Linked DNA regions of Homo sapiens. The protein of the gene in region 2 interacts with the protein of the main gene of each other region in a biochemical or structural test. Each region holds a gene or a part of one and is shown on either strand. Other genes may lie near its edges.

Region 1 (3,651 bases), on a different chromosome or scaffold from region 2:
CCTCTGCCTGGCAGCCTTGAGCATGGGTGTCCCTACCGTCCCCACAAGCTGCTTCTGCAGGTGCGTATGGTGACTGTTGTCGATCATCGGGGCCCCACTCCAGGCGGACCCCACAATCCACCAGCGACCCGTCTGCTCCGCACTCAAGACACTGTCCCAGGAGACGCGAAGCTGCGTCTCAGAACCTGAGCCGGCGTTGCGGACCTGATGAAGAGAGAAGAGCTAATGAAATGCTTTTAATTGGTTCATATTCCGTCCTTCCATCACCGGTGGCTTTTTGTTTTTGACCATGACATTTCTGGTGCATGAATACTGGAATGGGTCACTGGCAATTGGGACGGTTAGCCTGTTTGGAAAAATGCCAAAACTAGCGGTAAACTCAGTGTTTTGTGTTTGAGAGTCCATCACCCCAAACACGCTGTGTTTGGAAAGCTGTCCCAACAGGAGAGAGTAACAGAGCTGCCTCAGGCTCAGTGGCAGGTGAGCACATGCCTGGAAGAGCCTGGGTCAGCAATGATTTGGACTTGAGATGACAGGGGCTGAAAGACTCACTCCAACAGGGAGGCTGCCCCAGTCTCCATCCTGGCTGCATGTCAGAGAGAGTCAAAGGACCTACGTCATCCCAATTTCCTTGGTCCGGATGGGGACTTGGCCTTCTCTGAAAGCATCGGATGATCCAATGGTGCAGCCCAAGTTTAGCACCCGGGGTGAGGCAAAGAGGACGCTCGCCCAACATGGGCTTCCCCACACACGGACATTCTGCACGAGCACGCCCAGACCACTGGGACAGCCCCTGAGGAAAACCGAGCCGCGTTCACTCTGCCTCTGAGCACTCTCACTCACCAGACACCACCCTGACGTGCAGGTCTGACTATTTCTTGATTTTCATGACAGGCTCATGCCGACACGGAAGCTCTGAGCAAAACAGAATTGAAAGTTCCTTGACTCACCAAAGCTCTCTGCAGTTTCCTCAGCTTCTCCACGGGCTCGGGGTCATAGCCTGGAATTTTGCGCATGTCATTGTTCTTCAGGGCCAACATCGTCTCTAGCATAAACCGAATCTTCAAGAAAAATGAAAAAATGGAAAGTCCATCATTTCAAACAGTCTAAACGGCCCATTCAAGTTGGCAAGAAATCTACCACACCTGATGCACATGGCCGCCACCGCCACGATACAAAGTCAGGACAGCCTTTAGGTAGAGACAGTCTAAACTAGTCTCAGCCGCTTACTCAGGGCTACATAATACTTCAAAATGGAAATGTGTCCCCCAACGTCAAGTGGGAACCCAAACTCCCCAGAGATCTCTTTTCCCTTCTGCTCGCCACACGCCTCACCCTTCCGCACCGTCCACACCTACTCGGCCACCCCGGCCTCTACTACGCTCCTGCTCCCACCCTGGCCCCCCGCGACCTGCTCTGGACATCCTCTCTCCTACCACTGGCCTTGTAATTTTTTTAACTTTAAAACTGGAAGTAATGTCATACAGAAAAGTTGCAAGAACAGCACAAAGAATTCCCACATACCCTCTGAGATGTCCCCAAATGTCAACTTCTTACTGATACAGAATTCACATAGCATAAAACTCACTCATGTAAGGTATATAATTATGTGGCTTTTAATACATTCAGAGTTGTGCAACTATCACCACAATCAATTTCAGAACTTTCTCATCACCCCAGAAGAGAAACTCCAAGCCCATTAACAACCATTCCCCATTTCCCCAACTCCCCAGCCAGCTCCCCAGCCCACTAATGTACTTTCTGTCTCTTCTCCATTTGAAACCACCATTGAGCCCGCTGCTCCCATTCCCTTCTCCAGCCCCCTCCTCTTCAGACTGGCTTCTCCGGGGACCAGGATAAGCCAGTCAGGACCGCCGTCACAATTCAGCCCAAAATGCAAATCCCTTCCTCCTCTTGCTGGTCCTCAGCATCCCACACGGGCGTGAATTCTTCCTGGGGACACTAGTGTTCCCTGGCTCCTGGGACCATCCTCATTTCCTTCTCACCTGCCAGCTCTCCCTCCTGCCTGCAGCTAGACGTCAGTGCTCCTTAACCTGAAGGTCCTCTTCACAGCCCACCTGCTGCCAGGCAAGTCCACCCATTTCCATGGCTCCCAGGACCCCCTCTACGAGAGCAGCCCCATATCCCTTCAGCCCACTCTGTTCACAGCTAACCCAGTCTTTCAAAAATGGAGGTGCCTGTCCTAAATCCTCATCTCCTCCTGCACGGTCCCCTGTGCCCCTGATGGGTGACCCTGAGCCCTCCTTCCCTTCATCCCAATCCACATGAGGTCTGGTCACTTCTGACGCCCATGTCCACACCCACTGCCACGATCCCAACATTTGCCACCACCTACTCCCCAGCTCCTGCAAAACTCCTCCTGACTTCGACCACCTCATGCCTCTTTCTGCCTTGGAGTCAAAGTGACCATCAGAAGGAAAACTCCAACCTGTCATTCACCTGCTGGAACCCTTCAGATGCCTCTAGGATAAAACCCTCAATTCCCTGCAGTAATTAACAAGGGACCAGAGACCTGAACTCTGCCTTTTTCTCTTGTGATGCCCCCTCCAGGCTCTCAAACTAACCCTTTTCGGGTTCTTCCCCAAACGGCTTCCCAGGAACACGCGGTTCCACACATCTCATCATCTGAACGGCACACAATGTGGGAGCTGTGATCAGTCCCTGTTTTACAGAGGGGGAAACTGAGGCTCAGAAGACCCAGGTTATGCTGCTGTCAAGTGGCAGAGCCCAAAGTCCAACCCAGGCTGACCCTAGAGCCCCATGTCCTGTGGCCTCCTCGGTAAGCATTTTTTAACGGATGAATGTTAAATAAATCAGTTTTTAAATTCACAAAATATTTTTCTGGTAAAGGAATAAGGTCCATTCACATATTAAAGCCAGAAAACAGGATGAGACAGAAAAAACAGAAATCACTAGGAAAGCAAGTGTAATATTTACCCCAGATACTGATTTTTAGGTTCTGGCCAGTTTGTGAGCTTTAGGGACTTAGGAAGCAGATCAAGCGTCGCACGCGTACCCTGGTCTGGTCCTGAAACTCGCTGCCTGCCCCGCTGGCTTTGGTCTGGGCTTCAGTGATCAATTCCTTAAGTGATAAAGCATCATCTTTCCTCAATGAAAAACCCACGTTTTTCAGCATTAACAAGATCAGTTCAATATCTTTTTCGGTGAAAGTTCCAATCAGTTTTTTCAAAATGTCGAAGATGAGGAGAGACTGTACCACGTGGAAGTTGTATAAATGGGCAATGACGGTGAACAGGTTGTCACACTCTTTCCCTTCGCTTCCGTATTTATAGATGGCATCGAACTTCCTCACCACTGCCTCCAGAAAGTGGGCACCGACCTGAAAGAACCACACAGAAAAAAGATTATGTTATTCCTAGAAACCTTCCTTTCTCCTTCAACACACAGAACTGGCACTTTCTAAATTAACAAAGTGCCACAAGGCAGGGCATTCCAACAAGGCATCCCTCGGCAACCCAGAGCAGCCGGCCAGAGTGCCCCAGCCTGGACGCAAGGGCACCTTCCTCTTGTTAAAATCAACAACCAAGGGGCACTGTTTGGCCAGCAGCCATTCTGACTCCTTGGAAAAATAAAACTGTTAAAAATGATGTTAAAAACACACCTATGTCT
Region 2 (3,651 bases):
GCCAACAAATTACTGCAGGCAAGAGATACCATTAAGCCATTGGAAGCAAAAGAACATTAACAACAACAACAAAATTTAAAATCCCAAAAGGATTAGTAAAAAATATTGTACAGAAGAATGATTTATTCGTTTTACCTTCACCAATTTGCCATTAATTTCTGGAAGTTCTCCAAGTTTCCTATTGTCTAGCATTCGAATTTCATAAGACTGTCCTAGAAGAAAAAGTAATTACATATTATATTCACCACAAATTAACTTTGCTAGATTCGGAAAGAATAAAATTCAGTTGGTTGAATATACAACAGTATAATAATATTATTAGTATTAGTAACAACAATCAGAAGCCTTTACAAGATGCTCAGCACTGTGCTAAGTATTGTCACATTATCTCATTTAACTGATATACTTTTCTAAGGTATTATCAATCCCATTTTACAGACAAAGAAATTGAAACTTAAAAGAGTTTTAGCAACTTGTCCAAGGCCACACAATTGGTAAATAATAGAGCCAGGTAGAGTAATACTTCTCAGACAGTAACCAATGGGAGTGTCTAGGGAATATGATTAGGAAGAGGAAGCTGGACACTAAAAATGGACAGCTAAGCAAAAGAAGCTAGTAATAGATATCAAGTATGACATTAGAACTCAAATCTCTGAAGTAGGACTTCTAGTTTGATAGGCCACACTAGAAAGATCTAAGTTTTTACATATAAGTGTACCTAATAAAACATCATAAATGGCCGGGCACGGTGGCTCACGCCTGTAATCCCAGCACTTTGGGAGGCCAAGGCAGGCGGATCATGAGGTCAGGAGATCGAGACCATCCTGGCTAACACGATGAAACCCTATCTCTACTAAAAATACAAAAAAATTAGCCGGGTGTGGTGGCGGGTGCCTGTGGTCCCAGCTACTCAGGAGGCTGAGGCAGGAGAATGGTGTGAACCCGGGAGGCAGAGCTTGCAGTGAGCCAAGATGGCGCCACTACACTCCAGCCTGGGTGACGCCGTCTCAAAACAAACAAACAAACAAAAAAATCATAAATACAGTAGGTCTGCAATAGTACTAATGAATGAGGAAGCATCTAACCTTGATTGAGATACGTTAGGGTTTCATCATGGAGTTTCACTGCTGGAGAGGTAGCAGCACAAAGCACATATTGAAAAGGCAGGATTTTATTCTCATTATCAGGAGGCAAACTCGACTCTTCTTGCTTAAAAATGGGCAATGCAAGGACATCACTAAAATAAAACAAATGACTCACATTAATACCTGGCAATGGTGCAAACGCAGGTTTATTGCTGAATGATTTAACTGCAATGCTTTGGAAAGCCATAAACATTACTCACCTTGGTGGAGTTTCATCCCAAGAATTCCATTTAGATTACCTGCTGTGATATCCCCCTGACCACAACAGTGTGGGTGATGACAGATATTCACTGCTAAAACCACTAAGTGTTAAAGAGAATGTTTCTAGGAATCATAGACAGGGGTTCCTAAAAGGACTGTGGAAATTATAAACAGAGTTCTAAAATGTATAAATCTAGGACATTCAGTAACGTCTTCATTCTCAGAAAGGCAACAACTATACTATCTATATAACCATATCAGCTGATTTACTATAAGGACTAAAATAACTTCTACAATTCCTTAGAAGCCACGTGAAAAGGACAAATCAATAACGAGTATATATTTCAAGGTCATCTTACATTCTGTGGAATAACAACTAATATTGAGATGTTCCTACAAGCCATTTCCTCTAAGAAAAAGCTTTTTGTATCTATCAGTTTATCTAAACTTGCAAACCAAAGACACATACCCATCCTTTGTCAGTGGGAATGTAAAACCACACTCTCATCCTTTTGTCAGTAGCAATGTACAATGACATAAAACAGTTTAGGAAAAGGTTTGGCAGTTTTTTATAAAATTAAACATGCAGTCAGGCACAGTGGCTCATGCCTGTAATCCCAGCAATTTGGGAGGCCGAGGTGGGCGGATCACCTGAGGTCCGGAGGTGGAAACCCGCCTGACCAACATGGCGAAACCCTGTCTCTACTAAAAATACAAACCTAGCTGGGAGTGGTGGCGCATGCCTGTAATCCCAGCTACTCAAGAGGCTGAGGCAGGAGAACTGCTTGAACCCGGGAGGTGGAGGTTGTAGTGAGCCGAGATGGTGCCACTGCACTCCAGCCTGGGCAACAAAGGCGAAACTCCATCTCAAAAAAAAAAAATTAATTAAAAAAATTAAATTAAATTAACCATGCATCTATTGACCCAGCAATTCCACCCATTGGTACTTATCCAAGAAAAATGAAAATGTAAGTCCACCCAAGACTTGTTATAAATGTTCACAGCATAAAAGCAAAAACTAGGCCAGGTGCTCACGCCTGTAATCCCAGCACTTCGGGAGGCCGAGGCGGGTGGATCACCTGAGGTCAGGAGTTTGAGACCAGCCTGGCCAACATGGTGAAACCCTGTCTCTACCAAAATTACAAAAATTAGCTGGGTGTGGTGGCGCATGCCTGTGGTCCCAGATACTTGGGAGGCTGAGGCAGGAGAATCACTTGACCTCAGGAGGCAGAGGTGCAGTGAGCCGAGATCGTGGCACTGCACTCCAGCCTGGGCAACAAAGCAAGACTCTGTCTCAAAAAAAAAAAAAAAAAAAAAAAAGAACAACAACAACAACAAAAAAATAAAAACTGGAAAGAACCTAAATGTTCATGAGTAAGAGAACGGATGTACAAACCATGGTATATCCATACAATGGACTACTCAGTGAAACAAAGGAATGCAACACGGATGAATCTCACAGATATAATGCTCGACAAAAAAAGCCGGACACAAAGAATGTGTAATGCATGGTTCTGTTTATATGACAGTCTAAAACAGGCAGAGCCAAAGAGAACAATGGTTTCCTGGTGGGGCAGGGGATGACTTGGAAGGTATATAAGGGAACTTTGTAGGGAGATAAAAATGTATTATACTATGATAGGTCTGCTACGTGGTTGTAACTGTAACAGCTTATTTTTGCATCTCATTGTATATGAATTTTACCTAAAAAAAAAATTATTGATTAGAGGATGGGGAATAGGTAGAAGTAAAAATAATAAAAGAGGGCTAGGTGTGGTGGCTCACGGCTGTAATTCCAGCACTTTGGGAGGCCAAGGCAGGCAGATCACTTGAGGCCAGGAGTTCAAGACCAGCTTGGCCAACATGGTGAAACCCCATCTCTACTATTAATAAAAATACAAAAATTAGATGGGTGTGGAGACACACATCTGTAATCCCAGCTATGTCAGAGGCTGAGGCACGAGAATCACTTGAGCCGAGATTGTGCCACTGCACTCCAGCCTGGGCGACATAGCGAGACTGTGTCTCAAAAAAAAAAAAAAAAAAAAGGTAAAAAGAGTAGTAACATGTTAAAGCAAGGTGATGAGTACAAGAGGGTTCATCATATTATTCTGTTTACTTTGTATATGTTTGAAATTTTCCACAGTAAAGTTTTTTTTAAAAAAGAAAAAATATATATAGGCCACAGAGTACTTCTGGGTACAAAAGAAAAGGAACAGGGTACATGAAATAAAAGAAACAATTAAGATTCCCTTGGCTAGGCACGGTATGGCTCATGCCTGTAATCCCAGCACTTTGGGAGGCC
Region 3 (4,335 bases), on a different chromosome or scaffold from region 2:
GTTCAGGTGAGGGCAGACAGCACGGTACAAAGGTCATTTGGAGCAGGAACTGTGCAAGACGGAGTGGCGTCATTACAGTGGCTGGGAAGGTACTGCAGGGACCCTGTATTCCCACACAGCAGCAGACCCAACGTAGGCAAAGAGGAAATAAGCATGGCAAAAGTTGGAAACAGTCAAAGCTAAAACCTCTTGCTTGTTTTGAAACAGACCCCAATTTTAAGTACTTATTTTTGCCAAGTGGTCACGATGGCTGTTCTCTCATATGTCTACCAAGAACTAGGTTAAGGGCATTGAAGCAAAGTTCCTTTTTTAGATAAAGTTTATCCAGCAATTTCAAACACCAGAAATCCAAGACCAGATCAACCAGATAATCAGCGTGATCATTTAGGCTCTTTACAATCTGTACAAAATCCAAATCTAAGAAACCGGCCCTAGCAAGACCCCTTTTATCCCAATCCACGGACAATCCTAAAATTGCCAAGAAAAACTTTACCACAAACAGATTTTGTTTTCAATGAAAAAACTCTTAATTTCATAATTTTCATACCACTTTTTTCTTTTTTATTTAAAATATTATAACCAATTGACATACTAGATAACATTGTTTACATTCCAGTGGTGCATGTTTAATGACTAGGGCATGAATGATGAAAAACCACAATAATGATCTCAGCATTCCCTAAAAAGTGCCCCATTTTGTTTTGTCTAGAGGAAAGGAGAGGGAACGGAACACAGGGAAGGAGAGGAATGGAGGAGGAATGACATCGCAGAGGGAGAAAAGCAAATGTCAGCTATCATACTCAGGTTTCCAGGTGTGACACCCTGCTGACCAGGATAAACTGTAATGAGAAAATAGATGTCACAGTCCAGGGAGACACGTAATTCAGTCTAACTTCATTATTCAGCTAAAAGATTAACAGCTTCTCAAAAATATACCAAATATTGGGCCTACAAAAGTAATTTATTTCTTCGTAAAATTTTTACTAAGATTTACTCCTTTTGTAAAATGTAAATGGACCGATATCACGAGCAGGTTTCTACTTACAAAAACAGTAATAATGTCAACGAGCACAATTTTGCAAGACATACAGTCAAAGATTTTACACGTGTCTCTTACTGATGTAAGGTATATACTTTACATACTTACTGGTATTGTGTCAACATTGGCTAGAAAGTATTTAACACACATTTATAATTCACTCAGTAAAGATCTAACAGGGCAACAGCTTACTTGGGAAAGCATAGAAAATTAGTGTGAGGTAGTTCAATAAAAACCTAGTTTAATTTGTAAGTCATTATGAGAATAGAACATTGTGCAAAATTAATCCACAGGTAATATTTCTCAAAAGTTTCAGTAACGAAGAGAATCTAAACTAGAAATGGCCAGAAAGTGTTACTGTTACTAGACTCTCCTTAAGAGCACTTAACGAAGAGCAGTCAGTTTGAAATTAGGACTTCTGTTTTCCTTACGAGTTTTCTAATCGTACCCCAAACTATACATTTCTGCTTCAATGCCCTTTACCTCTTCATCTTTCTTGCTATTAAGGAAAAATTAGTTTCCTTTGATTCCGTAAAAACCTAAGAGAGATCAGTAGAAACACAATGCACACAAAAATGCAACAGGATACGGAGAGGCAACATTTAAGAGGGCTGCTAATGACAGAATGGTGTTTGGTTTACCTACTGGTAAGAGAAGTTTACTGGTGTCATGGGGCTTCATGCATCCACTCTATAGCTAATGTGTAACTAATGAACAACACTCACAAACTACAACAGTATTTCTGAAAATATTCTATGTTCTAACCTCAAAATGTTGTGCAGGCGAATGCCTAGGCAACACTGAATAGTTAAGTCTTCATATGTTTAGCAGATACTGGCCAATAGTGTAAACCAAGTCTTATCTGTAACCAAGGAAAGAGCTTCACTTTCCTGCTGATGATTTCACTATCAGACACTGATGTCCTCTTCCCTCCATCTTTTAGACAACACAGCAGGATTAGCATAGAACAGAACAATGACAAGGCTGGCAGGATGCTTCTTTGCACACCATCAAGCTTCTTTGGATTGTTAAGGGGGTTGTGTGTAGGCTTCTGATTTAAGAGGCTGGTGTTTCTCTTAGAAGTCTGGCATGAACACACTGTGCCTTTACCAACTCGGAAGAGTGCACGTCAGGAACAATTAGCAGCCAAAGGTGCATGACACTGAAAACTGTTCAGCAAACACTATGACAGAGTTGAGATGCTCTATCTGCGTATAGTATAACTAAGTGATCCCAACAACACAATGGTTTTACAAATGGCCAGTATATATTAGAGGGAAGAGAATAGTAACCAGGAAGACATTGGTACAGAATTAGCATCTCTTTCTGAATCTATGAAGATAATAAAAATCTTGGTCAAAATAACTTTCTGATAGTAAGACAGTGAGTATATTAAGTATATAAAATTGAAAAATCAAAATTATAGAATAAGAAAGGTGGTTTCATACAAGTACTACCTGATAGAAATGTTATTTGTAACTTCTCTTCAAAAAAAAAATGTTTAAGATGCTTAAAGGATTCCAAAATAAAAAGAACCAACATATATTTAGCTTAACAAATTTAAGACGAAAACTGTATTTGGATGTAGTAATTTAAAACCTAGGGCATGCAACATTTAACAAAGAGACCTTGTTTTTAGGATATAATTTGTTAAGTATTTTAGTTTACACTAAGTAATGAGAGTTTGTTTTCTTTGAATTGAACTGAACATGATGGTTGGCAAGTGGCAGCTGGCATTTACAATAAATGATACAGACACACACCTGGTTTTCCTTACTTAACCAAAATCTGTATCAATAGAGATGGCTTATCAGCAATCAAACATAAAATATGAGAACCTTCTGAAAGCATGTCTGCTGTGAAAGTGCAACAGTGACATAATCTATGCTACAGAAAATACAGCTAATTGTGAAATTAATATAAACACACTCATTCTCAAATTTCTGCTGAAATTGTGAATCCAATATTTTCTGTCTACAATTCAAGAAGTGTCTTAGAACTCTAATTTGCCTAATCAAATTAATGCACCTTGTTGTATTAGAAAAGGGACTGATAAAAAGGCTGGGAAGCTGGAAATCATGACTCTAAGCCATCGAAAACAAACTTGCTACTTCAAAGTATATAAAAAAGCTAATGTATTTTAATCTTAAATATTGCACATTAACAGTGATGTAAAATATCTCACTCAAAAATAATTTTGCACTAAATATATGAATAAAATGCCAAGCAAATTTTCAGACATTGCATGTTGAGCCGCACCTGTTCTTGCTCCTGTTGGTCACAAATTCCAAGGGGCTTTCTGCCTAGAACCTTGTTGCTTATGTGAGTATGCATTTCCTAGTTCATTACATGAAATCCCTCTTGTTCCAGAGATAATTTAAAAGGTGCCTGGGTCTATTACAGACAACGTATTTCAGAAATAACGAGACTTCAAAGACATTTTACTTAGGAAAAGTTCAGTAATAGAGAAATAATTCTACAGATAGAAAATGTAAACAGTTAACATACACTTGTCAGGAGCAGCACCATTCTTAACACTACTCGACATCCACATTGCGTGTTATGTTGAAAATCAGGTATAAAAAAATAAAAGACTTAGACTAAATAACCACCATTTATGCCTGCTCTGCTCAATGTGAAGAAACAGTCCTTAGAAAATGATATCCTATATATGGCTGTGTGCTACTATTTTCAGATGAACGGTATATTGCTCATTTGATACATCACCTACACAAATCTAGGTAGGGTTTGGAACCTCCCAATAGCTCGTATAAATGATTATGCTACAAGTAGAATCAAATGAAACACCAGAACAACTGGTGCTCAACTGACAGACACTCCAAGTAATAGGAAACAGGAAAGGTCCAAGGACCCGAAGCTGCAGGAAAGGGAAAGACCAGACTCTAGAACATTGCTGGGACCTACAGCCTGAGTAGATTAACTCAGTGTATACAAAAACAGGCTCATAGCTAGTAGAAGTGAACCATCTGTTTATTTGCATTGAAATGTATTATTCATGAAGTATCCTCTTGCCTTTATGTGATCATAAACTTTGAGCATGCCACAAATTTGTAGAATACACCATATTCTTTTTACTTATTTTTGTTGGGTAGGGTGGGGACATAAGGTGGTGGTAGACGCCCAGCATCTTCAAAGACATGCTCTGAGTTATTCTGCCATTTAGATGACGGGGCTTTTGCCAAAATTAAGTAGGATTGCCTACCAATTCTTGTAACTAAATTAGGATTGGCAAGTAGCAAATATTGGAGGTCTCCTAACACGTTCATCATTTACAG

The links.
Region 1: the proteins of TFCP2 (region 2) and NOM1 form a complex in vitro, tested with the Homo sapiens proteins (one large-scale study listed by BioGRID).
Region 3: of the proteins of TFCP2 (region 2) and MAPK8, one has a biochemical effect on the other in vitro, tested with the Homo sapiens proteins (one study listed by BioGRID).

What each region holds. Positions count from the first base shown.
Region 1 is NC_000007.14:156,959,561-156,963,211, reverse strand, and holds part of NOM1 (nucleolar MIF4G domain-containing protein 1), read right to left. Parts: intron 3,362-3,651; coding exon 3,038-3,361; intron 1,062-3,037; coding exon 951-1,061; intron 205-950; coding exon 37-204; intron 1-36. UniProt on the Homo sapiens protein: Plays a role in targeting PPP1CA to the nucleolus.
Region 2 is NC_000012.12:51,117,536-51,121,186, forward strand, and holds part of TFCP2 (alpha-globin transcription factor CP2), read right to left. Parts: intron 1,238-3,651; coding exon 1,086-1,237; intron 213-1,085; coding exon 136-212; intron 1-135.
Region 3 is NC_000010.11:48,435,556-48,439,890, reverse strand, and holds the end of MAPK8 (mitogen-activated protein kinase 8), read right to left. Parts: 3' UTR 531-4,335; downstream 1-530. UniProt on the Homo sapiens protein: Serine/threonine-protein kinase involved in various processes such as cell proliferation, differentiation, migration, transformation and programmed cell death.